Regions from separate parts of the Homo sapiens genome. Here all the other regions are reported to be linked to region 4. The links are microRNA targets in miRTarBase. Many come from high-throughput screens and were not tested one by one. Region 4 holds a microRNA gene; each other region holds the end of a gene's coding sequence.
Evidence for each region. Region 4 holds the annotated microRNA hsa-miR-7160-5p (UGCUGAGGUCCGGGCUGUGCC, at 3,318-3,338, opposite strand). A microRNA usually pairs through its seed, bases 2 to 8, with sites in the 3' UTR of a target mRNA and lowers its output. Matches are read on the target gene's strand: a 7mer-m8 pairs with bases 2 to 8, a 7mer-A1 pairs with bases 2 to 7 and ends in A, and an 8mer does both.

Region 1 (7,119 bases), not on the chromosome of region 4:
CTCAGAGCCTTTAATTTGCTAATGTGAGTTGTGAATCTCTGAGAGAAGGCTAACGGCATGCTTGCAACTTACTTGTCCACAGACAAGCCTTTCTGCCCCAGAAGAGAAGACCATTCTAGGGTGCTAATGAGCAAAGAGGGTGAGGGTGGAATATCGGAGAGCAGCAGGGAGTGCAGGGGAACAGATAGGCCAGTTCAGGGAGCAGAGAAGGAGAAGCCCCCCCACCTCACCTGCCCTCCCCAGCAGTCTCTGTTCTGGTCTCTCACAGGGTGACAGTGGTGGGCCCCTGATGTACCAATCTGACCAGTGGCATGTGGTGGGCATCGTTAGTTGGGGCTATGGCTGCGGGGGCCCGAGCACCCCAGGAGTATACACCAAGGTCTCAGCCTATCTCAACTGGATCTACAATGTCTGGAAGGTAAGGTACCTTTGCCCTACCCACTGTGCCTTCCCTCCAGTCCTCTACCTGGGGGGTGCCAATCCATCCTCAGGTTTGATTTAAATGGTTCTGACAACTCTTTACATCCCAAATAACTTTCCCTCCAAGCAAGGGACAGCCTGAGATTGCACTATTAAGGCTGAAATTCCTTAGGTCAGAGATTTCTGATAAATGCAAATACCTTAGGGAATAGAACACACCAAGCCTTTCTTTCTCTTTTCTGACAGAATGAGACTATCAGATCCTTTCTAGAGAGAAGATTCTGATAAGGAAGAGAGTGGAAAGGCTCATGAGACCTCCTGGCCCTCTGCAGGGTAGGGAGAGAAGCAAAGTGTTTCAGAAAAGGAAGACTCACGTTACACATGTCACCACTTTGTCCAGTTTCAGATAATCTGACTTTCTCTTCATCGGTCTCTCTTATTCTAGGCTGAGCTGTAATGCTGCTGCCCCTTTGCAGTGCTGGGAGCCGCTTCCTTCCTGCCCTGCCCACCTGGGGATCCCCCAAAGTCAGACACAGAGCAAGAGTCCCCTTGGGTACACCCCTCTGCCCACAGCCTCAGCATTTCTTGGAGCAGCAAAGGGCCTCAATTCCTATAAGAGACCCTCGCAGCCCAGAGGCGCCCAGAGGAAGTCAGCAGCCCTAGCTCGGCCACACTTGGTGCTCCCAGCATCCCAGGGAGAGACACAGCCCACTGAACAAGGTCTCAGGGGTATTGCTAAGCCAAGAAGGAACTTTCCCACACTACTGAATGGAAGCAGGCTGTCTTGTAAAAGCCCAGATCACTGTGGGCTGGAGAGGAGAAGGAAAGGGTCTGCGCCAGCCCTGTCCGTCTTCACCCATCCCCAAGCCTACTAGAGCAAGAAACCAGTTGTAATATAAAATGCACTGCCCTACTGTTGGTATGACTACCGTTACCTACTGTTGTCATTGTTATTACAGCTATGGCCACTATTATTAAAGAGCTGTGTAACATCTCTGGCATAGGCTAGCTGGAATGCTTGATAAGAACTGAGCTGGGATGATTGAACTTTCATTCTTTGGCTTGGGGAGAAAAGAAGTCCTGGGGAAGCAATTGAGTCTCAAAGTAGAGGCAGGGGAAAAAAGAGTTAGGGAGACCAGATCTGCTGAGTGGCAGCAAGAGTGAGCTGCAGATTACAGAAACCAGGGTGAGCAAGTTTGAGTCCCACACAGGGCCTTCTCCCTTTGCCTCTTTCCCTCCCTCCCTGCCTGTGATAATCAGCCAGGAGCCAGGGATAACCTATGACTTGGGAAAGAGATGAGTTAGGCAGTCAAGGGTGACATTCAATCAGGGATCCACAAGTGGCTGGAAAGAAATGCTGGTCCTGTGTCCTAACTTTTTCCGCCTGGAGAGCCCTCAGTGTGGCTTCTTACATTTAAAAAACAAAAAGGATCAGCTGCCAGGTGTGAGGCAGTCCCCAAGCTGAGTTGTGAGGATGTAAGCATGAATAAGTCCCTGCACTCAAAATGGTCAAAGAATTAAACCCCATGGACTTTTTTGGCATCTGTATGAAAGCTTGGGTTTTCTGAGGACTGTCTTGCTATAGTTAAGTCAGATCCTAGATGAAATATACTTGTTCATACTGTACTAGGTTCTTAGGAAACAACAGAATTCCTCAAATGCCAAAAACAAAGAAAATAGAAACCCAGAAAACAAAACAAAATAAAACAAAACCATCAGAACTGTGAGTGGAAACTAAGGTGATGATCTGGGAGCAATACACTAAAATCTTGGGTCGAGACCTATATGAAGGCTGGCAGTGGAGCTAAACCTGGACACACTGAAGACAAGGGAGCTGAACCAGGGCTCCTACATGAAGCAGGGATAACTGATGGCAGTAAATGTGGTCTCAAATTGCAGATGGTCTGGAGGAAAATTTCCCAAATTTAGAGCCTCAGGATTCCCAAAGATCCTCCAAATATGAGCTCACAATCAAAGATCAGAGACGTTGAAAAATAAAAAACACCTTAAGTGGGCAGCATAAAAAACAGCTAATTTAGAACCCCAAAGGCTTCAGATGTCAGAATATTAGAGACTTATGATAATAAGCAATATTTGCAGAGTATTTGTATGTGCCAGACACTATTGTAAGTGCTTCATCATGTACTGATTCATTTAATACTCACAGAAATCTGTGAGATGGGTATTATTCTTATCCTCACTCTATGGATTAAAAAAACTAAGGCACAAAGTGGTTAAGCTCCTTGCCTGAGATTATAGACTGTAAGTTGAACGTGAGCACTTGGAATACAGAGTTCATGCTGTAAACTACCACACTATAGGGCCTCCAATATGATAATTTATAAAATATTTGAATAAAAAATGAATACTAGTTCCACATTTTAAAATCATGTTTAACTGTGGTCAAATGCACATAACACAAGTTGCCATCTTCACCATTTTTAGGTGTATAGTTCAGTGGTGTTATGTACATTCACACTATTGTGCAGTCATCACCACCATCCATCTCCAGAACAGAAACTCAGTACCCATCAAACAACTCTCCATTTCCCCCTCCTCCCAATCTCTGGCAACCACCATTGTGCTTTCAGTCTCTGTGAACTGGATTACTCTGGGTACCTCATTTAAGTGAAGTCATGCAGTATTGGTCTTTTTGTACTTGTTTTATTTCACTTCACATTGTGTCTTCAAGTTTCACCCATGTTGTAGCATGTGTCAGAATTTCTTCCCTTTTTAGACTAAATAATATTCTATTGTTTATACGAACATTCAGGTTACTTCTATCTTTTGGCTATTGTGAATTATGCTGCTGTGAACATGGGTGTACAAGTATCTCTTTGAGGCCCTGCTTTCAATTCTCTTGGGTATATTCCCAGAAGTGGAATTGCTGGATCATATGGTAATTCTATTTTGAATTTTTTGAGGAACTGATATATTGCTTTCCATAGAGACTGCACCATTTTACATTCCCATCAACAGTTTGCAGGAGTTACTATTTCTCCATATCCCCCCTAACACTTGCTATTTTCTGTTAAAAATGGATATCTTAATAATCAAGCAAAAATAACAGGCAGATTTGAAAAAGAACTGAATACAGCTTTTAGAAATAAAAACTATAATTATAAAAATAAAAAACTAAGTGGATGGGGTAAATAACAATTAAAACACCAATTAAGAGAGAACAAATGAACTGGAAGATAAATTGAAGAAGTGACTAGGCTTAACAGCAGAGAGAGATAAGGAGATTAAAAATATGAAAACAAGGCCAGGAGCAATGAAGCCTAGAATGGTAAATTCTAACATATCCAGAATCCCAGAAAGAGAGAATCAAGACAATGAGAGAGAGACAGTACCAAAGAGATAAGAGCTGAGAATGTTCCAGAATTGATAAAAGGTGTGAATCCACAGAACATACACCACCATAGTGTACACGCATACAACCAAGGTGGAAAAATTAGAATAAATCCACACCTATGTACATTATAATGAAACTGCAGAACACCAAAGACAAAAAGAAACTCCTTATAGCAGCAGAGAGAAAACCCAGACCACCCACAGTACCACAAATCTACCACAATTAGACTGACAACAGGCTTTCCCACAGCAATAAAGGAGCTAGAAGTCAGTGGAAGTATATCTCCAGCATGCCAAAAGATAACAATCAATCAGGGATTGTGAACCCTACAAAACTATCTTTCAAGAATAAAGGCATTTTCAAGAAAACAAAAACAGACTTTACCATCAACAAACCTTCTCTAAAAGAATATATAAAGCATTTACTTTAGGAAGAAGGAAAATGATCCTAAAAGGAAGAACCAAGAAGCAAGTAGCAATAGTGAGGCAATTGTGAAAATGTAGGTAAGTCTAAACACACTCTGTCTACTTCTTCTTCTTCTTCTTCTTCTTCTTCTTCTTATTTTGAGACTGAGTCTTGCCCTGTCACCCAGACTGGAGTGCAGTGGCAGGATCTTGGCTCACTGCTATCTCCACCTCCCAGGTTCAAGTGATTCTTCTGCCTCAGCCTCCCGAGTAGCTGGGATTACATGCACATGCCACCATATCCGGCTAATTTTTGAATTTTTAGTAGAGATGGGGTTTCACTGTGTTGGCCAGGCCGGTCTCAAACTCCCGACCTCAAGTGATCCCCCCGCCTCGGCCTCCCAAAGTGCTGGGATTACAGGCGTGTCTACATATTATTAAAATAACAATAATATTTATTTTGTGGGTTAATTTTTTTTGAAACAGATATTGAATTTATTGGTTGGCTATGAGTAGAAAAATACATCAGTAAAGAAAAAAGACCCTGTATATAAATATAATACTAGCTAGTTAAAATTTGACCAAGAAGTTTCCATTGTGGGTTAATTTTTAAAGGCCTAACTGAAATATGGAGTAACCACAGCATGCAGCATGTAAATTAAAGGGGATAGCTGGAGTTAAAATATTCTGAAGTTCTTAAATTGTCCAAAAGGAGGGTTAAATATTAATGTTATGTTACATAAAATGTTTGTACTATGTTCTAGATGGTTAGTTAAAAGAGTAATCACCAAAAGAATGGAAATAAAAGTGTGTCACTTCCAAAACAATTGAAAGTAGCAATTGATGAATAAAAAACAAATACATCAAGCAAGTACAAAAGAGAAAGGAGGGAAAGGAAGAGCACTAAGGAGGGAAAAGCACAGAAAAATGGAACAAATAGAATATACAAAGTAGGATAGTGAAAAAAGTACTAATAATCGCAATAAATATTAAACTCACCAAATAATATACAGAGATAGGCAAATTGGATAAAAATGTAAGATCAAGCTATATGTTATTTGTAACAGACATACACAAAACACCAGGTTACAGAACCATTAAAACTGAAAAAGTGGAGAAAGGTACAGACAGCAAGCATTTAATCAAATTTAAGCTGGGGTAGCTATATAATATTTTTCTAAATAAGGATTTAGGACAAAAAGACAAAACTGACTTTAGGATAAAGAGGGTCACTACATAATCACGAAAGTTTCAATTCACCAGTAAGCTATAATAAGTGAAAACTTGCAAACAAAGAGAAGAAAATAGAAAATTAAAAAAATCATCCTTTGTCACCACTGGAGTTGGCAATCACACCAGGCTCTTACTCTGAAATAATATTTAAAGAGGAAAAGTTAGCACTATTCTGCTTTGCCATAGAAATCTACTTCCAGGTAACAGGGTGGCTCCAGGTGGTGAGGGAAAGTATAGCTAATCAATATAGATGAATGACAGGAAGCCATCATTGGCAATTTCTAATGAAATCATTGATTCAGGCAAGGATCATCAATGGATGCTATTGTCTGAATGCTTGTGTCCCCCAAAATTTGTATGTTAAATCCTAACCCCCAAGGTGATGGTAGTAAGAGGTGGGACTTTGGGGGCTGATTAGGTCAGGAGAGCTCCCTGTTCATGAATGGGATTAGTGCCCCTTACAAAAGAGGCTTGAAGGAGCCTCTTTGCCCCTTCTGCCATGTGAGGACATAGCAACAAGATACTATCTATGGAAGCAGAGAATGAGCCCTCACCAGACACCGAATCTGCTGGCAACCTTGATCTTGGACCTCCCAGTCTCCAGAACTGTGAGCAATAAATTTCTGTTGTTTATAAATTACCCAGTCTAAGGTATTTAGAGCAGCATGAATGGACTAAGACCACAGAGAACTGCACAGTCACATAATACCCTCATATCATCCCACGGATCCCTTGCTAATCTCAATAAGAAACCTAACTTCAAAATGAAGGGATCAGGCTATCATCACCTTACCCACTAACAGTGGAATCAGCAGATACTATGTTCCTCCCAACGTGAATATGAAGTACACCTTCATGTTGCATCATCTAAAGGCATCTTCCCAAAAATGTTTAACATAAATCTTTTAGATCTAATTTCCAGTGTACAGGAAATACAAGAATTAGAGGAACAAAACATAAGAATTAGAGGAACAAATTAAATGACACCACTAAAAGACAAATCCAGAAGGTGGGACATTCCACCACAGGACATTCCCATCTCTTCAACAAATCAATGTCATGTAATTACTGTTATGTCTTTTTTTTTGAGACGGAGTCTTGCACTGTCACCCAGGCTGGAGTGCAGTGCAGTGGCACCATCTCGGCTCACTGCGAGCTCCGTCTCCTGGGTTCATGCCATTCTCTTGCCTTAGCCTCCCAAGTAGCTGGGACTACAGGCGCCCGCCACTACGCCTGGCTAATTTTTTGTGTGTTTTTAGTAGAGACGGGGTTTCACCTTGTTAGCCAGGATGGTCTTGATCTCCTGACCTCGTGATCCGCCCGCCTCAGCCTCCCAAAGTGCTGGGATTACAGGGGTGAGCCACCGTGCCCGGCCAATTACTGTTATGTCTTAAGAGGCATAACAATCAAATGTAAGGCATGGGCTTTGACCAGATCCTGAGTTGAACAAGTTAGCAACAAAAGGCATTTGGGCAAAGGGGTAATTGGGAAATGTGAATATGATCTCAGTATTAGATGATAATAAGGAATTGTTAATTTCATTATGTGTGACAATGATATAGTTAAGTAAGAAAGATATTCTTAACTTTTAGAGATGCATACAGAAGTATTTGGGGTAAAATGATGCAAAGTTGTAATTAAAAATACTTCAGGAGGGGCCAGGCATGGTGGCTCATGCCTGTAATCCCAGCACTTTGGGAGGCCGAG
Region 2 (7,119 bases), not on the chromosome of region 4:
GACAGGACCAGGGCTGTGCTGTTAGGATTGGTAAAGAGGGAGTCGAGGCCAGATGCAGTAGCTCATGCCTGTAACCCCAGCACTTTGGGAGGCTGAGACAGGAGGATCACTTGAGCCCAGGAATTCGAGACCAGCCTGGGCAGCATAGTGAGACCCCCATCTCTAAAAAATTGGGAAGGAGTAGAAATCTTTCAAAGGGTTAAGAGGAGTTAGAGACTCTTTTGGCATGGCGGGGGTGAAGAGGGAGAGCTCCTCTGAGGCATCGGCCTGGGCTGGGAGCTGAGGGCAGCAGGGCGGGCTGGGGAACTTGAGGTGCCTTTGGGACATCTAAGGATGTGTGACCAGAGACAGCAGTGTGGGCCTGGCACTCAGGAGCCTGAGCAGGCTGGAGACACCAGTTAAGTCACATTCACAGCATGGACCCCCTTGGCTCAGCTGTTTCCTGAGTCTGGTCAAAGTTATTTAAGCCAGAGTCATCTCGTGGTTGTGTCATTTCCCCCTTTCCCTGCGCATGTAGCTTTCCCCAGGCTGGAGTGTGGTGGGGAAAGCCACAGGGAGTGTCACTATACACATAAGTTAGTCTCCTGGAATTTCTTCAGCTGTGGTCATTGCTAAAAAAAGAAGTATGACGCTGGACAACAGGAGTCCAATGGGACTTTATTTAACATGTTTGCTCAAGTTATCAGCTCTTTGCAAGTGACTGACAGACACCACCTCCTTTGTAACCTCAAAGCAGGTTCACAGACTATCTCCTGGTTCTTAGGGATTTCTTCTGTCGAAAAGAGTTCTCAAAAATAACAGCAACCTGAGATACCATCTGTTAAATCCTTAAGCAATTTCGCATGCCTTATGAGACCCTGCTGATTAAAAACATCTAGTTTTGTTTTCTTTTTTTTGAGACGAAGTCTCGCTCTGTCATCCAGCCTGGAGTGCAATGGCGCGATTTTGGCTCACTGCAACCTCCGCCTCTCTGGTTCGGGTGATTCTCCTGCCTCAGCCTCCCAAGTAACTGTGACTACAGGTGCGTGCCACCATGCCCGGCTAATTTTTTGTATTTTTAGTAGAGACGGCGTTTCACTGTGTTAGCCAGGATGGTCTCGATCTCCTGACCTCGTGATCTGCCCACCTTGGCCTCCCAAAGTGCTGAGATTACAGGCATGAGCCACGAAGCCCGGCTAAATTTTGTGTTTTTTGAGATAGAGTCTCTCTCTGTCACCTAGTCTGGAGTGCAGTGGGGCAATCTCAGCTCACTTCAACCTCCACCACCTGGGTTCAAGAGATTCTCCTGCCTCAGCCTCCTTAGTAGTTGGGATTACAGGCATGTGCCACCACGCCTGGCTAATTTTTGTGTTTTTAGTAGAGATGGGGTTTCACCATATTGGCCAGGCTGGTCTCGAACTCCTGACTTCAGGTGATCTGCCCACCTTGGCATCCCAAAGTGCTAGGATTACAGATGAGAGCCACCATGCCTAGCCAACATCTAGATTTTTAGAATCTCTCTGGCCCCTTCCTGCCCCATCTTTGTCTTTCTGCCCTCCCCTCCAATAGTGGCATCTCCTCCTGGGGCCACTGTGCAGGAGTGAGTTATTTGCTCACTAATCACACCATACTAAACCCTAAACTCACTCCAGGACTGCTCTCCCAGCCCAGTGGGTAGCCTTTGCCATGGATTGGTGGAAGGAACTTGGGCCTGGAACTCCCTGGTCCCACCTGAGTCTGGCCACTCTCTCTGGCTGTAAAGGTGGAGTTTAGAGGACGGGCACTCCAGGCTCTTTAGGAGACTCCTCTAGATAGAACCAGAGAGGGAGAATGGGAGCCCATTTAACTAAAGCCAAAAAAAATAGATTTTTTTCATTTTACTCCCTTGCTGTTTTGTTGTTGTTGTTTTGAGTTTAGGAGCAGAGGTTTAATAGGCAAAGGGAAAAGGAGAACAGCTCTCTCTCAGACAGAGGGGCACCCAAATGGGAATTCCCGCTAACTGGTAATTTGATGAGAAATAGCAAACAACAGAGGACCACTCTGACCTGTCCTCCTGCCTACTTCCTGCACTGTTTATAGGAGCCCACCTCCTCCTCCTCATGCGTCCTGTTTGCTTCCTTCCAGCCACGGGCTGCCCAGTGGTGTTCTGACACCTGCTGTACCATCGCTGCAATGTCCAGCCTGGAATCCCTGGCGCTGCGGTGGTGCTGGATGGGCTCAGAGATGGTCCGATCAGAAGGGATCACAGAGGAAAGCTGGGGGTGGTGGCTCACGCCTGTTAATCTCAGCACTTTGGGAGGCTGAGGCGGGCGGATCACTTGAGGTCAGGAGTTCCAGACCAGGCTGGCCAACATGGCAAAACCCCGTCTCTACTAAAAGTACAAAAAAATTAGCCGGGCATGGTGGCATGCACCTGTAGTCCCAGGCAGGAGGATCACTTGAACCCAGGAAGCAGAAGTTGCAGTGAGCCGAGATCGTGCCACCGCACCCCAGCCTGGGTGACAGAGCAACACACCATCTCAAAAGAAAAAAAAAGGGATCACAGAGGAAACTGAGGCACAGGAAGGGCAGTGCCTGCCTCAAGGCACCTGGGAACCGGCCTCAGGTGGACCTTGTGTTTTCCATAGGAGGAGCAGAGACTGCTAGAAACTAGGAGTTCGAGTCTCTTCCACCATACACCTTTCTCAGCCCGAAAGGGCAGCACATTCCCACGATCAGGAGCCCCCAGAACACCGATTCTTAAACTTTAGCATGTGTAGAAATCCCTGGGAGAGCTTTTCACAACACAGATTCCTGCGCCCCATCCTCAGAGATTCTGATTTGGTAGGTCTGGGGTGGGGCCTGAGATGCTGCATATCTTTTTAAAAATTATTATCATTATTATTATTTGAGACAGAGTCTTGCTCCATCACCCACGCTGGAGTACAGTGGCGCAATCAAAACTCACTGCAGCCTCAACCTCCCAGGTTCAAACAGTCCTCCCACCTCAGTCTCCCAAGCAGCTCTGTCTACAGGCACAGTGCCACCACACCTGGCTAATGTTTAAATTTTTGGTAGATACAAGGTCTCACTATGTTGCCCAGGCTGGTCTTGAACTCCTAGCCTCAAGTGGTCCTCCTGCCTCGGCCTCCTAAAGTGCTGTAATTACAGGTGTGAACCACTGTGTCTGGCCAGATGCTGCATTTCTAATAAGCTTTGCTCCATGGACCACACTTGGATTACCACTGACTTAGAAACTCACAGTACCTTACCCACTGAGTCAGGATGAAGCTTGCTAAACTGTTGCAACAAGGGCCTAAACTGTTGCAACAAGGACAGAGCCAGGTGCCTCACGCCTGTAATCCCAACGCTTTGGGAGGCCAAGGCGGGTGGATCACATAAGACCAGGAGTTCGAGGCCAGCCTGGCCAACATGGTGAAACCCTATCTCTACTAAAAATACAAAAACTAGTTGCAGATGGCCTCCAGCCATCTGCAGCACATGATCTGGTGAAGGAGAGCTCTGATGAGCACGTGACGTAGTATGGTCCCGGCAGGTCTAGCCCAGGGTGGTGTGGGGGGAGTTGAACTTAGGTGACTCGCAGAAGACCCCCATGTGCCCAGGTGGAGCAGGGTAGCCATGTGCCCAGGTGGAGCAGGGTAGCTAAGTAACTGGACACTGCGGCTGGAAGCTCAGAGGCATCTAAGCAAATTGTATGATTTACCCGCGGTGTGACCTAGGACAAGTTACATAATGTCTCTGAGCCGAGGCTGCCTCTCTATCAACTGTGATCATAACACTGTGATTGTTTCTACAGGGAGCCCCCAGTAAATGGCAGGAATTCAGGTCACCATGAGGTGGACTCACGTTGATCTCAGACCAGATAGGGACATTAGTGGGTACAAATGGCCCTTGATGCTCAATTTTGTTGTCAGTTAAAAGAACCCTCTCAGCCAGTTTTTAATTCCCACTGAGCAAGTGAGATGGGTAAAGAAAACAACAGTGGCTCACACCTGTAACTCCAGCTCTTTGGGAGGCCAAGGTGGGAGGGCTATCTGTGCTCAGGAGTTCAAGACGGCCTGGGCAACATAGTGAGACCTCCTCTCTACAAAAAAATTAAAAATTAGCCAGGTGCGGTGGCACACACCTGTAGTCCCAGCTACTCAGAAGACTAGGGTGGGAAGATCACTTGAGTCCAGGAGTTCAAGGCCACAGTGAGCTATAATGGCACCACTGCACTCCAGCCTGGGCAACAGAGTGAGACTCTGTATCTAATAAAAGAAAAAATAGAGAAAAAGAAAAAGAAAACAAGCACCATTGGCTGGGAGTGGGCAAAGCAGACAGACCCCCAGCTCCCAGCATCCTCCACTGCAGGTGACCTCGAGAAGGGTCAGAGCAGGAAAATGGGGGCTGGGAGGTTCAACAGAAAGCTGTGTGGCAAGACCAGGGAAGCAGGTGTGGCAGCTGGCGTGAAGAGACAGGTCAGGAGTGCAGTCGCATCATTTAACGAGCATTTATTGCACACGTCTGTTCAAGCACCAGGCTCAGGCTGGAAACCATCCAAAGCGCAATCCCTGACCTCAGGCAGCTCACAGTCCAGTGGGGAAGCCGAGAAGCAAATTAATGACTCTGAAGAAGCGCAGGCAAGTGCTATGATCAAGGCATGTGTGTGGGTAGGGTGTCTGGGAACCCCAAAGTCAGCCTCAGGTGGGGAGGTAAGTCAAGGAAGGGTGAGGGGACTGGGCTCAGCCTGGGTCTCGGAGGAGAGCGGGGCCAGCCCCGGGGATGGTAGAGTCAACCTGCCAGGCACTGTGCACTGCTGGCCAGGCCCGGCCAATGAGAGCACAACTTGTTCAGGGTCCAGGAAGCAACCCCAGGAGAACAAAGCCTCGTGGGGAGGGAGGAACCTGGAGGGTGGAAGGAGTTTGGGCTTTTCCTGAAGGTGATGAGAGCCACTGAAGGATTCTGGGGGAGGAGACATAGGGTTATCCTGGGTCATGGGGGAGAGAGCTTTGAAAGGCAGGGAGGTGGGAGGCCGCAGGGACTCTCAGAAGTGGAGTCTCAGAGCTCCTTAAGAGGTGAAGGCAGCCGGGCGCGGTGGCTCACGCCTGTAATCCCAGCACTTTGAGAGGCCGACGCGGGCGGATCACAAAGTCAGGAGATCAAGACCATCCTGGCTGACATGGTGAAACCCTGTCTCTACTAAAAATACAAAAATTTAGCTGGGTGTGGTGGCGGGCGCCTATAGTCCCAGCTACTTGGGAGGCTGAGGCAGGAGAGTTGCTTGAACCCGGAAGGTGGAAAGGCGGAGGTTGCAGTGAGCCGAGATCACGCCACTGCATTCCAGCCTGGGTGACAGAGAAAGACTCCATCTCAAAAAAAAAAAAAAAAAAAAAAAGAGGTGAAGGCACAGGACAGGAGCTGGGATGTCACCAGCACCACTTGCCAGCTCACTTGTGCCTCATGCTCCCTGTTTCACAGATGTGGGAGGCAAAGGAGTCAAGGCCAGCTACACAGGGAGGCTGCACAGGCCCCCTGGCTTCCGGCTCCCACAGGTGTCTGCCCAGCCCAGATCTGCGCGGGTGGGAGGCACCTTGGTTAGGAAGGGCTGAGCCTCTTGCACTGATTTGCAAGCTTTCAACCTGGCCTCCAATCTCAAACTGGCCTCCAGGCCGTGGGCCTGATGGGGAGCTGCTGGCATTGCCGCAGGGCTCATCCCCACCAGCGGAGGAGATATTCGTAGCTGAGGAAGGTGACAGCATTGACGGGAAAGGCGCGGGCACTGTTGATGGTGACCCCCCGGAAGAAGACTCCCAGTCCTTCCTGCCGGATGCTGCTCACCATGCAGTCCAGCATCCCCTGGTACACTCTGCGTCTCAGTCCATCCATCTGCATCCGGGACTTGATCATGTCTAAGGGCGTGGCTGCCACCCAGGAAGCAATGCCTGCAAAGCCCCCTGCCACCAGCACCGTGGCTGAGCCTGGGGCAGAGAGAGCCCAGAGCAGGGGTCAGACCCAGAACAGAGCATCCTCCCCAGACCCTAGTTTCCTTCCCCAGTCCCCGCTGGACCCTGCCTGCTACCCACACCTCTGTCCCCCATCCTCTCACGCCACTTTACTTACTGGGATTCTGGCCTTCTGGTGTGTACTGGCGACAGAGCCCTTCATAGGTGATGAAGTAGATCCCCACCGTGGGGGTGTCCCTCAGCGTCAGGGCCCAGGCTCCTCGGAACAGCCCCCGGGGCCCCTCCTCCCGGAAGATGGAGGCTGCACAGTGCACGGGCCCCTGGTACCGGGGTGGGGGGCTCCCTGGCTGGGCCCTTGGCTCTGTCTGGTTTTGTAGCCGGACTTTGATGAGGTCAAAAGGAGCCAGACAGTAGGCCTGTTGGTGATGAAACATGAGGGCCCCGGGTGGGGCTTTGGGCTGGGAACTGGCCCCTTATATTCACAAGAGGAAGGAGGCAGGCAGGGGGCCACATCTTCCAGTCCCTCAGGAACCCTGCCGGCACCCAGCCTCTCACGTGCATGTGTGGCTGGGATGGCCAGGATGTCTGCATGCGACCGGGACAGGCCACCTCCCTTGGCATCAGGCCCAAGAGTGAGAGGCACTGCCCCTCATGCAACAGTGACCAACTTGCCTGGCCTACAGCAGGCACTCAGAACAAGCCTGGATTCTTTTTGCAGGAGCAGGTTGGTTTCTGGCCTCCCTAAAGCCGGCAGTGAGCATACCTGTACGGTGGGCAGGGCCAAGTGAAGGATTCAGCCTGTGACTGTGAAATAGCAAAGAAACCACCCTTTCCCAGGGTGAAGGAGGTCCCCTCGTGAGTGCTGTTCTCCTGCGCCCACCTCTCAGAGGCCCGGAGGGGCACAAGGCCAGCCCCTCCTGCCTCCAGAGAGGCAAGACTCCTTCCCATTAGCATCCCACCAAAGAGGCTTCTGAGTGTGGGAAGGTGGGTAATGGGGGGACTTGGCAGGTGCTAGGGCTCTTAGAATCGGCAGAAGCAGATGCTACACAGATTTGGGATGGAATTGGGGCTGGAGTCCTGGTGAGGGTCAGTGCTGGGGGGATGTAGAGGGCGATGGGGGCAATTAAGATTTGGGTCAGAGATGCCAGTAGGTCAAGATAGCTTTTGGAGTCCAGGTGAGAATCGGGGTCCATGT
Region 3 (7,119 bases), not on the chromosome of region 4:
TTTTCCTATTATGGGCCCAAGACCTTTTTTCAGCCCTGTCATAGTGGCTACTACCATTGCCTCTAATGCTGGAAGTTCCTTCTATGAATTCAGCCTCTTAGAGCAGTTTCTTTCCTTTCTCACGTAAAACATGGCCACTCATTCCTCAATGGAAGCTACCATTCCTACTTCCAGAGCTTGTGTCCACAGGATCTTTGGTGCACATGGAGAAGACCCATTCTAGGCCCTCAGAGAAATCCAGGAGTTGGTATTACCTTTGTTAGACTGTTGGTAGTTTTTCTCTTCTTGGGGTTTATCACCGTCCAAGTTCTGAGTGGTTTGTTCACCAAGACTCATCTCTATTGAGTCCATTTTGCACTTCTCATTTCCTTGGAATTGAGCTTCCTTAGGGAACCAGAGTTCACCTCTAACCAAATGACTTGATTATGGATTACGAATACATATATAATTGCCCTGTTTTTCCTTTCAGGCTGAGTTGGCAAAATAGGAAGGTGGAAATTATTTTGGATTTTTGCTCTTCTTGTTGTTAGATGGAGTCTTTCACTCTGTCGCCCAGCCTGGAGTGCAGTGGCACAATCTCGGCTCACTGCAACCTCTACCTCCCGGGTTCAAGCGATTTTCCTGCCTCAGCCTCCCGAGTAGCTGGGATTATAGGCACCTGCCACCATGCCTGCCTAATTTTTTTGTAATTTTAGTAGAGACGGGGTTCACCATGTTGGCCAGGCTGGTTTTGAACTCCTGACCTCTGGTGATCCGCCTGCCTCAGCCTCCCAAAGTGCTGGGGTTACAGGTGTGAGCCACTGCGCCCAGCCTGGAGGTTATACGTTTAAATACCAGCCCTTTTTCACCCTCAAAAAATACTCTGAGTGGTAGTTTTTTTCTTGTTATAAAGGCTGGTTACCTATTCACATCACAGTATCTTAAGTTGGAGCTTTATTCTTTAAAATATTCTTAAAGTTTTAGATCATAGGTTTAATGAAGTTTATCTCATTTTAGAATCTATTTCCATTTCTGCAGTTGTTGAGGATTTATTGAATTATTGGAAAGGTGGATAAGTCCTTGTCACCTAAACTGACCAGACTCAGAGACATGCAGAATTACTGTCTCCAGAGCCCAGACAAGGCCTTTCCTTCCTAGTGAAATGTGTGTTTTTATTTCTTCCAGGTGTCAAGTTACATCAAAGAGCAAACTCAAGACCAGTTTCAGATGATAGTCATCTCCCTAAAAGAAGAGTTCTATTCCAGAGCCGACGCGCTGATCGGCATCTATCCTGAGGTAAAGACAAATCAGAGGCGAGAGGAGTGTACCCAATGCCAACTTCCCTTAGTACCCTGACAGCCACTGGGCTTTCCTAATTAAAACTTCCAAATGGAGTCTAATGCTGAAATGACTTTTTAATCAAATAAGATTAAAAATAACTACTGGTGCTTTCCTAGACAATACATAGAGATTGAAGATATATTTTAAGTGAAAAAAGCAAATGGAAAATTGCAGAACAGTAAGTAGGATAGTTTTGTTTCGTGAAATAAGTCCATGTTAATTTACACGAACTGTTAACATTATACTTCTTATTTCTGCAGTGTTTCAGTGTTTTAAGCAAAAACAAATGCACTGTGGTAGAGCAAGGAACCATTTATCCTCCAAAAGTATCAGAGGACAAAACAAAGAAATACATTAGAAGTTCCAAGTTGTATAGTAACTTCTAAAATGTGAACACACCTTTCTCAAGCCATTGAAAATACTAACCTGAACTCATGAAGTAGAGCCACTAGTTCAGGTCATTTGGTTTTGGACAGTTAGGATTTACTTCCTGAATTTTCCTTTAAGCAAAGATAAAAATTTACCTTCCTGTGCCTACAGAATGTTAGGGGACCACCTGGAAATATAATGCATGAGTAATGGAAATTCTCATACCAGATAATACCAAAAAAACCCACAACCAATATAAATGCAGATATCTTACTAGGTTGAAGAAGATTCCTTTTGAATGCAATTCTAGACTCACTAATGGCTCTTACTTTAATAATACTTTTTCCCTAATTAGGGGAACTTTTAACTGTCTTCTCTCCATTTTAGTACGATGACTGCATGTTCAGCCGAGTTTTGACCCTAGATCTTTCTCAGTATCCAGACACTGAAGGCCAAGAAAGCAGCAAGAGACACGGAGAGTCCCGCTAGGGGCAGTCCTGCAGCAGTCACCTGATCACTGTTCAGTTCCCACTCTAATACTCACACAGCTCCTCCACAGGAGACTTCTGGAGCAAGCAGGACCAGCCTGGTGCACCCTTTAAGAGAAACCTTAGTCGTTCTAGCCAAAGAGGCTGTGGCTCACTTTAGTTGAGTGTTCAGACCTCATTCTAGTAGGGAAAGTTTTCAGTGAGAGCTGGTGTCAAATGAGTTTTTAAAAAACAAACAAAAGGTACAATTTTGTACTATAATTCTAACTTCTATTTTGAAATAAGCTAGTTTGGTTGGAAAAATTTTGAATTCAGCTTCATCTTCACTCTGATCTTGCCTTGCACCCAAGTAATCTTGAAGGGAACTTCTCTTGGTTTTTAAACATACTAGTTATAAGATTGTTAATAAACTGTTGAACCTGGCTTTTGGGAAATTGTTTCAGAGAAACTATGTTAGTATTGAAAATATCAATAAAAAATGTTCTAATTTCAAATGTCTCCAATGTAGAATTTTAGAAGCCAAAAATATTTTAATGGTGAAATTGAATTATGTCTGTTTCAATGCAATCTGAATTTTTATAAATAGAATCTCTGTTACGGAAATATTGAAGAATACAGAGTTTCTCAAGTGACAACTGACTTCTCCACTTACAAACGTTATTATGTGCAGAAAGCTGCACTTTCACCACTTCATTTCCACTTCAAAATGGAACAAGACAGGCCTGGAGCGGCAGCTCACACGCTGGTAATCCCAGCACTTCGGGAGGCTGAGGCGGGTGGATCACTTGAGCTCAGGAGTTCGAGACCAGCCTGGCCAATGTGGTGAAACCCTGTCTCTACTAAAAATATAAAAATTAGCCAGGTGTGATGGGGTGCACCTGTAATCCCAACTACTCAGGAGGCTGAGGCAGGAGAATCGCTTGAACCCAGGAGGTGGAGGTTGCAGTGAGCTGAAATTGCGCCACTGTGCTCCAGCCTGGGTGACAAAGACTGTCTCAACAAAAAAAAAAAAAAAAAAAAAAAAAGGGACAAGAAAATTCTGAGGTGGGCTTCCACTTCAGACTGCTTTGGGCCCAAGTGCTAACCAAGGAGTAGCCTCCTGAGTAAATGTATCCATTTTAACAACACTGTTTCATGTAATAACAGAATGCACTCTGTGAGGAAGAAATTAAATCTCAAAAAGATTTGGTTCCTTCCTGGAAGGGACTTCCGGTACGGTGAGATAGCTGACCTCTATGAACTGCAGACAGCAGAAGCCACTCTATTTGTCCTCCTTTTTCTTTTTTTGACACGTAGTCTCGTTCTGTTGCCCAGGCTGCAGTGCGGTGGCGCGATCTCTGCTCACTGCAACCTCCACCTCCTGGGTTCAAGCGATTCTCCTGCCTCAGCCTCCCAGGTATCTGGGACTATAGGCATCTGCCACCGTGCCCCGCTGATTTTTGTATTTTTAGTAGAGACAGGGTTTCACTACATTGGCCAGGCTGGTCTCGAACTCCTGGCCTTAAGTGATCCACCCGTCTCAGCCTCTCAAAGTGCTGGGATTACAGGCGTGAGCCACCGCGCTTGGCTGTTCTCTTTCATAACTTTGACTTATAGACTGTCAGTGATCCCACCAAGTTCAGTCATTTCTGATATAACAGAGCATGCCCAGTAACCTAATTTAAGGGCCACAGCACATATTCAGGCTTTGTTGAGATAGTAAGGAGGTTCTTAGCAGGTACTTGTATAACTATTTAAAATGTAACCATTTTATTTTTATTTTTTTTTAGATGGAATTCCCTCTGTCGCCCAGGCTGGAGTGCAGTGGTGCAATCTTGGTTCACTGCAACCTCTGCCTCCTTGGTTCAAGTGATTCTCCTGCCTCAGTCTCCCAAGTAGCTGGGATTACAGGCACACGCCACCACGCCAGGCTAATTTTTGTATTTTTAGTAGAGACAGGGTTTCACCATGTTGGCCAGGCTGGTCTCAAACTCCTGGCCTCAAGTGATCCGCCCCCCTCAGCCTCCCAAAGTGCTGGGATTACAGGTTTGAGCTACCTGCCCTGTCTTAAAATATAACCATTTTAAAATGTAATAGCTACTCTAGCTTGAGGCAGTAAACAGCAGGGCCAACTTTGTTACCTCCTGATGTGATGTTTCTCACGGACTAAACTATACACAAGCAAGTGCACTATGCTGGAATTGCCTTTAATCTATCAATCGGATTGGAATAAACTTTACATTCTACAACGAGCATACAACAGAACTGACTAGATACATCCATGTGGTGCAGCAACATGGCTGTGTCCTCCAGCAGAGCACACAAAGCTTTTCTTAAAAATGGGCTGTAATGAGCTTTACATCCTACTGCATAGCATCCTCTATGCTTGTAATTCTGCTATACCCTGTGTCTGGCCAGCTCTTAGATTCAGATATTCCCTGACTGCACTTACTAAATGACATTAAAGAAAAATTTATAATGTTTGCTTTTTAAAACATTTAAATACATTCAAGTAATCATTTAGTTGATTTCACAGTTGGGTGGCAACTCAAGCTAAAAATTCTCACTAAATAACATTCTAGCAAGCCTTGGCATAACTAAAGAAACACTGAGCACACAGGGTTGAAGTTAAAATTTTATTTATGGCTGGAGTGGCATAAAAGATTTGTTTTCCATGCTTCAAAAAGAAAAAAAAAGTTTTCAGGGCTTCTCTCCCTCCCTATGCATCCTACCCTTCTGTTTCCTGTTCTTAACTTTATCTGTACCTATGGGAGTCATCAATGGGGAGTGTCACAGGGCTTGGCAAGAAATGTCACATTGAAGATAAGTGGCCTCAAACTGAAACCAAGCAGGGCTGTTTGTTTCCAAAGAGAACCCTCCACTGTAGGGCCGCTCATGCACCGCCACAGAAGCCTCTGCCGGGTCACAGTCAGAGAAGCTCCCCGGGCACCGGCAGCACACTCAGCACAGCCGTTTCATGTGGGTGAACCTGAGAAGGTTTAAAGTGTTGCAGGCCCTTTTCAAGTTTTGCCTCCCTCACTCTCTGCAAACTCCCTTAATGTGGGCCATGGAAGAGAATTTTAAGAGACAATAACAGAAAGACTGGATATTACCCCAGAGAATAAAGACTTGCAAAGCCTGGAACTTATAATGTTTGAAACCTGGTCTCTCGAACTTGAGCTATCCCGGTTGTCAGTCCCACAGTGGCCGTGCACAATGTTGGCCTGGACTGAAAAGGGCCTCTGGCTCCTCCGATTTCAGTTCTTAGCAATATCAGACCTGTGTTTCTTTGGAACAGAAGTTACTAAAACAACCTAATTCCAAAGAAGCCCTTTTGATCCAGCTGTTCTCCCTAAAAACATTTTCGCTAGCGGATTCATTCTTTACTATTTAACAGTGGACCTTTAAAACGTACCTTTAAAATGCTTTCTATAGTAACATGTTTCCACATACAAATTATAAAATGTGTTTATTTTGCTGGGCGCAGTGGCTCATGCCTGTAATCCTAGCACTTTGGGAGGCCAAGGCGGGTGGATCACCTGAGGTCAAGAGTTCGAGACCATCCTGGCCAACATGGTGAAACTCCAACTCTACTAAAAATAAAAAAATTAGCTGGGCATGGTGGTGGACGCCTGTAATCCCAGCTACTCGGGAGGCTGAGGCAGGAGAATCACTTGAGCCCAGGCGGTGGTGGCTGCAGTGAGCTTGAGATCGTACCACTGCACTCTGTCCTGGGTGACAGAGTGAGACTCTGACTCAAAAAAAAAAAGTGTCTATTTCGTATTTTCTCTTTGGCAGCTACTGTTGCTTGGACAGTCTTTACTCTTCCCCTTTTATTACGAAAAATACCACCTTGACAAAAGAGAGCCTGTCAGATGGGAACGGGAACACCAGGTCCATCCCTTCCCACGGATTCTGGTCCCTGAGGTAGCTATCCATCAGTCCTTGCAAAGTCCACCTGAAATGTGTCCGCGTCACCCTCCTGCATAGTTCAACACACAGGGGAGCCCTCTCACCCAGCCTTGAGGGCCACATGCCCATGTGGCTCTCTTGGTGTATGTGACGGTTTCGCAATCAGAGATCCACGTGGAGTTCTCCATACATTCCTCTTCGTTTGGGCACTGTGGTTACAGAAGGCTAGTTTTCAAGTTGCAGGTTTTACTGTAAAGATTTCAAGACCCTCCAGCATCATCTGTTTAAATAAAAGAATGAAATGCCCAAGGGTTAAAGTCCAGCTAAAAGAAGTTATTTGCAATAGATTTCTATTTCAGAAACTGCTTTACAATTGTTCTTATGTACGGAAGACTTTGAAAACCCCTCCACAATGGAAACAGTAGCCACTGTCTGGAAATGACCTTGTGTAATTATCAGTACTATCAGGGGATCAAGCAAATGATGACATTACATTTGCAACGATCTGTGGGAATCTCAATCCATGAACATGGATGCTCTTTTATTTCTTAGTGGACTGAGGATGGGGCAATTTCAACAAACATACAGTGAGAGCCTGTTGGAGGTATGGAGAAGAATAAGCCTGTCGATTCCTCTGGGATCCCCAGGCTTGGCTTCTCTCACCCACATGCAGGACAGGCCAGGGCTTTCTGTACAACAGAGGCCAGGAGCTTCGCCCTAAGGAGACATGACTGGGTGGGGAGAGCCGGGGCTGCAGGTGCAGGTGATGGCGTCTAGGAGCACAGATCTCACAGGTATTGAAGAAAACCCCTGCCCAATGCTCCACAGCAAGGTCTACCAGGCAGTAGGCCCTACCCGCGATGTGCACACCAGTCAGAGGTAGGCCACGGGGGGACAAAATCTATGTACACACAACAGCAGCAACAGCAGAAGAAAGCCAATCTATTGAGAATAATCGCCCGGGCCTTCGTTCTTGTCAGCAGGCACTGGAGGAGCCCAGATATGCAGAAAACAAAACAATGAACGTGAAAGAAAGTAGTGGAAAAGAACC
Region 4 (7,119 bases):
CCAAGTCTGAGCTTTAGTTTGGTTTCTTCTCTACAAGTCCCTGAAAGAACGCCTTTGTAAACCCCAAATGAAAGGTGAGTCTAAGAGTCACCAATCCTTCACCCTTTCTCCCACCCTCTCACTCTGTCTTGCTTGATTTTTTCTTTTTTTTAACTTCTATGGACACTGGGCTTGCAGGCCTGACCTGCGGTTTTCATTTTTCCATGCAGAGGCCGTGCCCAGTAGGGGGCGTTCTCTGTCCATCTCTCCCATCTCTAATTACAACTCCAAATCCCCAGGGGCTGAGCAGCTGGGGTGATGAGGTGCTACTTACCTTCAAGGTCATCCTGATAAATGGCAATCTCCTTCTCTCCCTCCAAATGAACGGCTGCGGAGAGAAAGGTTGACACTCGATTTGACATGCGAAGTTTTCCCCAAAAGCCCGTTTTCCCTCATTCTGTGCCAGCTCTGCATCTCCTCTGCATTAGGACTACAACCTGTGAGTCCTCTGGGGGCATCAGAGCTGATTCTGGAAGTGTCCTGGTAACAGTTAGCACTTCTCAGCTCTTGGTGGTGGATGCAAAGGACCATGTGCGTAAGGAAAATATAGTGGCTCGCTTACAACCATAACGAAGGGCCCAGTCCCATTAAGGAATCTGTGTCATGCAAAATTAAAACTCAGAATAGGATGGCCTTCTAAGTGTCATTATGTGTTGAAATTATATCACCAATGGAATAAAAAAAAGGTCTAATTCTGAGCCAATTTAACTGGATGCCAGCAAAGAGCTTTCTGGAGGAGAGGCACATTCATTTTAGAGTGTACGTCAGCCCGTTTTCATTCCTGTAGTGATGTTGGTGGAGATGTCAGAGAACGTTGTAACAGCCTGTGCTATGCTCTGCACACAGGGCATTCTCAGGGCTCACATCGAGTTGGGAGGGAAAGAGACAACAAATCACACACAAAACAGCCAAAGCTTCCTGGGCACAGTGGATACTTAGGCGTGAGCAGCTTACCTTGTAACCTTCTGAGGTCCAAGGGGTCAAGTGCAGCCACCGCATCAGAGACCCTGGAGGGTCGGCTGATGCCCGCACTGTTCACTGCCCTCACTCGGAATATGTAAGACCTTCCTTCAAAAAGCCCTGTGACCGGGTATTTGCAGATTTTCACCGGTGCATCATTGCACTGCACCCAATTATTCGTTCCTACTTCACATCTTCAAGTTAAAAAAAGAAAAACAACAGAGAATAGCAAATGTGGCAACCTACTAAATATACATAGGTATATGCATATATGCACACACTGATTATAACAGGACAATATCTCACGCCAGTAAAATCTTTGCTGCTAAGATATTGACTTGTATAGATAAACATTAGAAGACAGAGCTATTTAGAAAATGCAATATATATATTATATGTAATATCTATTATATATGTAATATATGCCCATGAATCTTAATAATTTATAGCTGAAGATCAATTTCTGTCATCAAACACATTTAGGCAAAAATCTCCTCAAAAAATTATTTTAGACGCATCCTGAACAGTTCTTGTTCCGACTTACGTGACATAGTCACGGCACCCCTAAGCTGCGGCTTGGCCCGTCTGAGGCCCAGGCTGGGGAAACAGGCTCAGCCCCCTCTGCCTCCAGCTCCCGTCCCACTCTGTGAGACCAAGGGCCCAGGTCCCTGGGAAAGCTGGCTTACAGTCTCCTAGAATAATGTTAGGACATTTCTTTCTAGAATGCCTCTCATGTGGAATTTAGAAGTCTTTTGAAAATATTAATTCCTGACCAGAAACCTGGAAATATAGGAAAGATTAACCTCTGTTTTTCACAGGTTGAAAAATGTAAGAAAAAAACCTTCACATGAAATTCCCAGGAGAAAAGAGCTAGTTCAGAAAATCAGTGTTGGGAGGGAGCACTTCAACCCCAGAGTGGTGCCTTCATCTGGGAAAGAACCAGCTCTCCTCCTAAGTATCCAGCACTTTTAATGAAAGCTGTCTGATCCACATGTCATGGGCTGTTTTAGCCGAAGAGAACAACAGGTCAAAACCAAAAGTCTGATGGGAAAACCTGCAACTTCAGGCAACAGCTGGCAAGTCGTAAGCCCAAAGGAAGGGCAGAGGAGGAGCTGCACCCCCCACTTCCAAATGCACCCTCATTCCCAAAGTGTTCCGTTGCTTTGAATTTCATGTTTGCGCTTTTTGTAATGAGGGGAGGAGCGTGGATTGTTAGCTGAGACAGTGCAGGAAATGGTTTTTGTCAACATGGCGGGAAAACTTATCAGCTGTCCCAGGAGAAAAGAAGATCGTTTTGAGGGTTTGTTTTTCTTGCTGTAGTTGCTTAATTCAAGGTAAGCCCGGAACAGCACTCCCTGCAGAACTGTCTCTAGCATATCAAAATATTAGTTTGATGGCACAGGTCTCAGCCAAACAAGTAGTTTTGTTGGAAGAGAAAAGAGAATTTAATCAGCATAAACAAACAAACAAACAAAAGCCAATTCCCTCATTTTTTCCTAAGATAATCACCTTATTTTTCTGTTTAATATACATATAAAATTTTGCATTTCTACCAGGAACCATCCTTTGTGGTTTTTTTGTTTTGTTTTTTTGTTTTTTGTTTTGTTTTGTTTTTTTTGATGGTGGAGTCTCACTGTGTTGCCAGGCTGGAGTCCAGTGGCGCAATCTTGGCTCACTGCAACCACCGCCTCCCTGGTTCAAGAGATGCTCCTGCCTCAGCCTCCCAAGAAGCTGGGATTATAAGCACATGCCAGCACACCCAGCTAATTTTTGTATTTTTAGTAGAGACAGGGTTTCACCATGCTGGCCAGCATGCTCTTGATCTCCTGAACTTGTAATCCGCCCGCGTTGGCCTCCCAAAGTGCTGGGATTACAGGCGTGAGCCACCGTGCCCAGCCAGAACCATCCTCTTTTACTCTCTGTCTAATTTCTAAATTCATTTTCTTCAACTATAATTTACTCCAAGAACTGGAATTTGTATTTAGGGCATAAATTACATATCCAGTAAACCCACTGGCTCTGTGCAGTACACTTCCCAGGCTCCAAGCGCTGTCCCCAGTACGGGAAGTCAAAGAATTCAAACTCCACTGGCTCCAACGATGACCTAAATGTAAGTTATCAACTCAAACACAAACTCCAGTATTTCGAAGCTCAAGATTTTTCACTTGGAAACAAGAAGAACACCTTATTCCTCAGTAGAGAAAAGGAAAGAACTTTGTTAGAAATGAGCTGGCATTCTTCGCAGCACTTTGTCTCTCAGGAGGGAAGGACAGTTCCAAGCTTTAATTCTGCTAAAGCCAGGGCCCTGTCCGGTACGGGGCACAGCCCGGACCTCAGCAGAACCACAGCGCGGGGCTCAGAGTGAGCCTGAAGACGTTGGTGGGATTGGTTACTGGGTGTGCAACAGGCAAACGAGCCTCCACTTTCAACAAAAAGAAACCCAGTGTGGTTATGCTGGGCTCAGCCTACTTGGCCGTATTTACCAATTACCTAAATAGGAACTTATACAACCAATTAGCCATGTACCTAGAGCCAATCAAAAAATGGGAACGTCAACCTGCATTGAGAAAAATTTCTCAATATATTGTCCATGGTAAGATTCCATGCGGAACGTTCCCATCCCCGGGAGAATGCAAGACGCTCACCGGTCCACAAAATAGCCCATGACGGGGCTCTCAGTGGTGGTGTTGGGCGGCTTCCAGGTCACGATGACGTAGTCCCGGTTGGCGTCGTGGCACTGCAAGTCCATGGGTGCACCGGGGGCCCCTGTGACCAGCGGGTCAGCATCTTGGGGCAGGGAGAGAAAAGGCACACGCCTGTCATTTAAAGGCTGGGGTCACTGCAAAGCCTGTTTACAGCTCCTCCAAGCTCCAATTCTATCCCCTTGATTTGACCACTGTTTAATTCTCATGTTCAAAGTACTAGAATATTTCTTACTCTGGCGGGTTGGTGACAAGAAATATAAAATTATGTATGAATTAAAAAGCTTCAAAACATAGAATCCTTGATAAAACACTGAGTCTACAATTTTTCGTCATTAGATCCTGAATTACAGGTCATCTTCTCTTGGTCCTGCTATGGTGCATAACGGCACGTTGGCAAAAATGTGCGGATGAAACAGTGACAATAATCTGGCATTTCTAACACCTGAGAAATATCACCTGAGATACTCTTCTATTTCAAAATCCTTAGGAAATTGGGCGATTTACTCTTTTCGCCAACTTTGAGCAAATATTTGGGACAATATTGCATCATTCGTTTCTCAGTCTATTGATGACCCTAATGCAATTAGGTTTAATTACAGCTGCATGAAAACCAACAGAGCAACATAGAAAGTTAATACACTGAATGTGAACCTTCTTATCTAAACTATGTATTTATTCAGCAGCCCTGGCTGCCCTGTGACGCATGCTTAGCAGGGTGAGCACTATCCAGTTTCCTGCTCACATATCTTCAGGGTATTAAAAGCTGAGGATTTCCTGACATTGAGCCAAATGGTTTCCTCTCACATTCAAAAGCCTCAGAAAGCGATGAAAATGGTTAAACTCCCCACCTTTGCCTTATTTTCCTCCTGTTGCTGGTGCTGAGTGAGCAAGGCGATTTGAGCCGTGTTGCATTTATTGCCTTTTTATGGGGCGGAGCATCATACCAGCAGGCACATGCAGAAGACGGAAGGGACATTTAACGCCCGCCTAACAACAGCAGTGAAACTTGGCGGGAGTGTCTAACCTCACAGACTCGCAAGCTCAGGCTATCGTGTGGGAAGTGAGGAGGGTGAGATACGTTTGGTTGACATTTCTTCTCTTTCTTTTCAGATGAAATATTCTTTAATGATACAGTCCTTCCTTTAAGCTCTGATCTAATGGATGCAATGGAAAAAGTAATCATGAAGATGTATGGATGCGTCCTGCACCCCACTGGAGCTGGAGGCAGGTGGGAAGGTGAGAACTTGGGCAGCAGGTAAGGATGCCCGGCTGATCGGGATGGAGCCGGGAGCCCGGGGACCCGGAGAGCAGCAGCAGCTACATGGCGCAGGAGCGCTCTGACGCCTTCTTTGTAGGTCAGCTGTGCCTCAGCAAGGAGGCTGCCCCTAAACCCAGAGGCTGCTGAGGTGCAGCCCAGGGCAGAAGCAGGAGGGGAGTGAAACAGACACTGATAAAAGCGTAGGTGGGGCCGGGCGCGGTGGCTCACACCTGTAATCCCAACACTTGGGAGGCCGAGTTGGGGGGCCAATCACTTATGATCAAGAGTTCGAGACCAGCCTGGCCAACATGGTGAAATCCCATCTCTACTAAAAATATAAAAATTAGCCGGGCGTGGTGGTACATGCCTGTAGTCCCAGCTACCGGGGAGGCTGAGGCAGGAGAATCGCTTGAACCCAGGAGGCGGAGGTTGCAGTGAGCCGAGGTCGCGCCACTGCACTCCAGCCTGGGCGACAGAGTGTTAATCCATCTCAAAAACAAAACTAAAAAAAAAGGAGGAGTGGGAGTAGGTGGGCCCCTTCTGCTCAGTCACATGATGCCAAAAACACTACAAAGTTATAACAGGAACTCAGGTTCCAGGCTCCAGCAAAATTTAAATCTGAGCTTCTCTACCCTAGAGACATTTCTCCTGCCTCTGAGCCTCCATGGATTCATCTGGAAAACTGAGAACAGTATTTCCTTTTGCTATCACTGTAAGAATTCCAGCTTATATATACATGGATGTTTATGTAAGTATAGGCACATACATGCACACCTATAGGCTGTATACAATAGGCATTTTATAAATATATATATCTGTATATCACAAATATTGTCTTTCTTTTCATAAATGGAATGAGTGAAGCTTCCCTAGTGAGTCTGCTGTGAAGACGAAATCCGTGTAGGACCCCAGCACACTGCCTGACATAAAGCGTCTGGTGATGACAGCTGTCATGGCCACAAGTGTCTTAAGCACGAGTTTCACTGAAGTGGGTGGTGGAGGTCACAGCACTGGCTGTCATCATCATCACATCTGCCTCTCTTAAGCCAAAGTCCAGAGGGAATGAGTCGCTGGCAGGAGAGTAAGGAAGCTCTTCCCTGGGACTCCAACACTGTGCCCCTCTTCATCCTCGGGCTACGTTCCCTGAGAATGAGTAAATCTGGGGCACTCACTCTTGGGAATCGTTTTTCAAATGCTAATGACTATATGAACGATTCAAGAGACAAAAAAATGATGATTCTGGTCTATTCCGGATTGTGTCCCGATTCTTCCGTCTGCTCATCGGCAGGAAGCACCTGGCGTGCCCATGCACTGAGGGAAAATCGGGGCCGCATGGGGTCTCCAAGGAGCAAAGTGGTCTCACACCCTCTGGACTCCTTTTCCCAGCGCCTCCCTCCTCCCAGGGCTGCCTCCCCTCCCCGGGCACACACAAGGTCTGCACCCTGAGAACCCTGCTGCCCGCACCTCTGACAAACAGGAAGGCGCTGTGGTCGCTGACGCCGCCCCGAGACACGATGCGCAGGGTGTACAGGCCCTCGTCGTCCTTGTGCAGGTGGCTGAAGGACAGGGAGGCCTGGCCTTCTCCAAAGAACATCTTCGTCCACTTGGACTCTTTCAACAGCACGTCTGAAAGAGCGTTAACACGGAAGGTTTGCATCCAAAATCACCCCAGCAGGCAAAGAAAGCCTCGGGGACACCAGCGTCGTCTCAGAGCGGGACAGGACAGTCGAGCTGGACACCACGGAAGGCAGAGCCTCAGCCTGGTAAAATCCCAACAGCTGCACTTCGTGGAAGCACACGCGTGAACTGAGCACCCACAGCCCAGAACACAGGCTGCCACTTGAGTGGGTCAAAGTGGGACGTGCTGCGAGCGGCCGCCAGCTTTGTCCTCAGGTAAACTGGGTTCACCTGGGGGCCCGCTGCTTCTCTGCTGGACGGCCACTGCCCCAACCGGCTTCCCCCCGCCCGTGGGGGATTACAGGGGTGTGCAGCTGAAGGGGCTACTGTCACATCTCCAAAGAACCCAGCATAGACCCTCCATATCATCAAACTCTAAAAACAAAATGACTGGATGGAAGGAAGAAAAGAATCTCAATACGACTAAGGTAGCATTTCTGTCTAGAAATAGTACACAAGCTGCTAACCAGCCCCTTCCAT

Region 1: the mRNA of TMPRSS4 is a reported target of hsa-miR-7160-5p. Seed matches in the 3' UTR shown: 8mer at 994-1,001 and 7mer-m8 at 4,436-4,442.
Region 2: miRTarBase lists SLC25A45 as a target of hsa-miR-7160-5p. Seed matches in the 3' UTR shown: 7mer-m8 at 5,224-5,230.
Region 3: miRTarBase lists FAM118A as a target of hsa-miR-7160-5p. Seed matches in the 3' UTR shown: 7mer-m8 at 5,812-5,818.

Annotation. Positions count from the first base shown.
Region 1 is chr11:118,117,037-118,124,155 of GRCh38, forward strand. It overlaps TMPRSS4 (transmembrane serine protease 4), which reads left to right. Exons shown (of 13, transcript NM_019894.4): 12 at 269-418; 13 at 866-4,854. The coding sequence ends at 877. Among named protein-coding and RNA genes, the nearest start is that of SCN4B, 32 kb to the right of the region's middle.
Region 2 is chr11:65,370,737-65,377,855 of GRCh38, forward strand. SLC25A45 (solute carrier family 25 member 45) reads right to left here. Exons shown (of 7, transcript NM_182556.4): 6 at 6,082-6,340; 7 at 4,456-5,939. The coding sequence ends at 5,671. It also overlaps a transcript of FRMD8 not described here. Among named protein-coding and RNA genes, the nearest start is that of SLC25A45, 8.4 kb to the right of the region's middle. RefSeq lists an enhancer at 5,889-6,389.
Region 3 is chr22:45,339,615-45,346,733 of GRCh38, reverse strand. FAM118A (family with sequence similarity 118 member A) reads right to left here. Exons shown (of 9, transcript NM_017911.4): 9 at 4,779-6,348. The coding sequence ends at 6,329. It overlaps SMC1B (structural maintenance of chromosomes 1B), which reads left to right. Exons shown (of 25, transcript NM_148674.5): 24 at 1,165-1,275; 25 at 2,077-2,671. The coding sequence ends at 2,178. Among named protein-coding and RNA genes, the nearest start is that of FAM118A, 33 kb to the right of the region's middle.
Region 4 is chr8:2,072,808-2,079,926 of GRCh38, reverse strand. MIR7160 (microRNA 7160) reads right to left here and starts at 3,338; the gene lies at 3,287-3,338. MYOM2 (myomesin 2) reads right to left here. Exons shown (of 37, transcript NM_003970.4): 10 at 6,427-6,588; 11 at 3,645-3,786; 12 at 994-1,193; 13 at 314-367.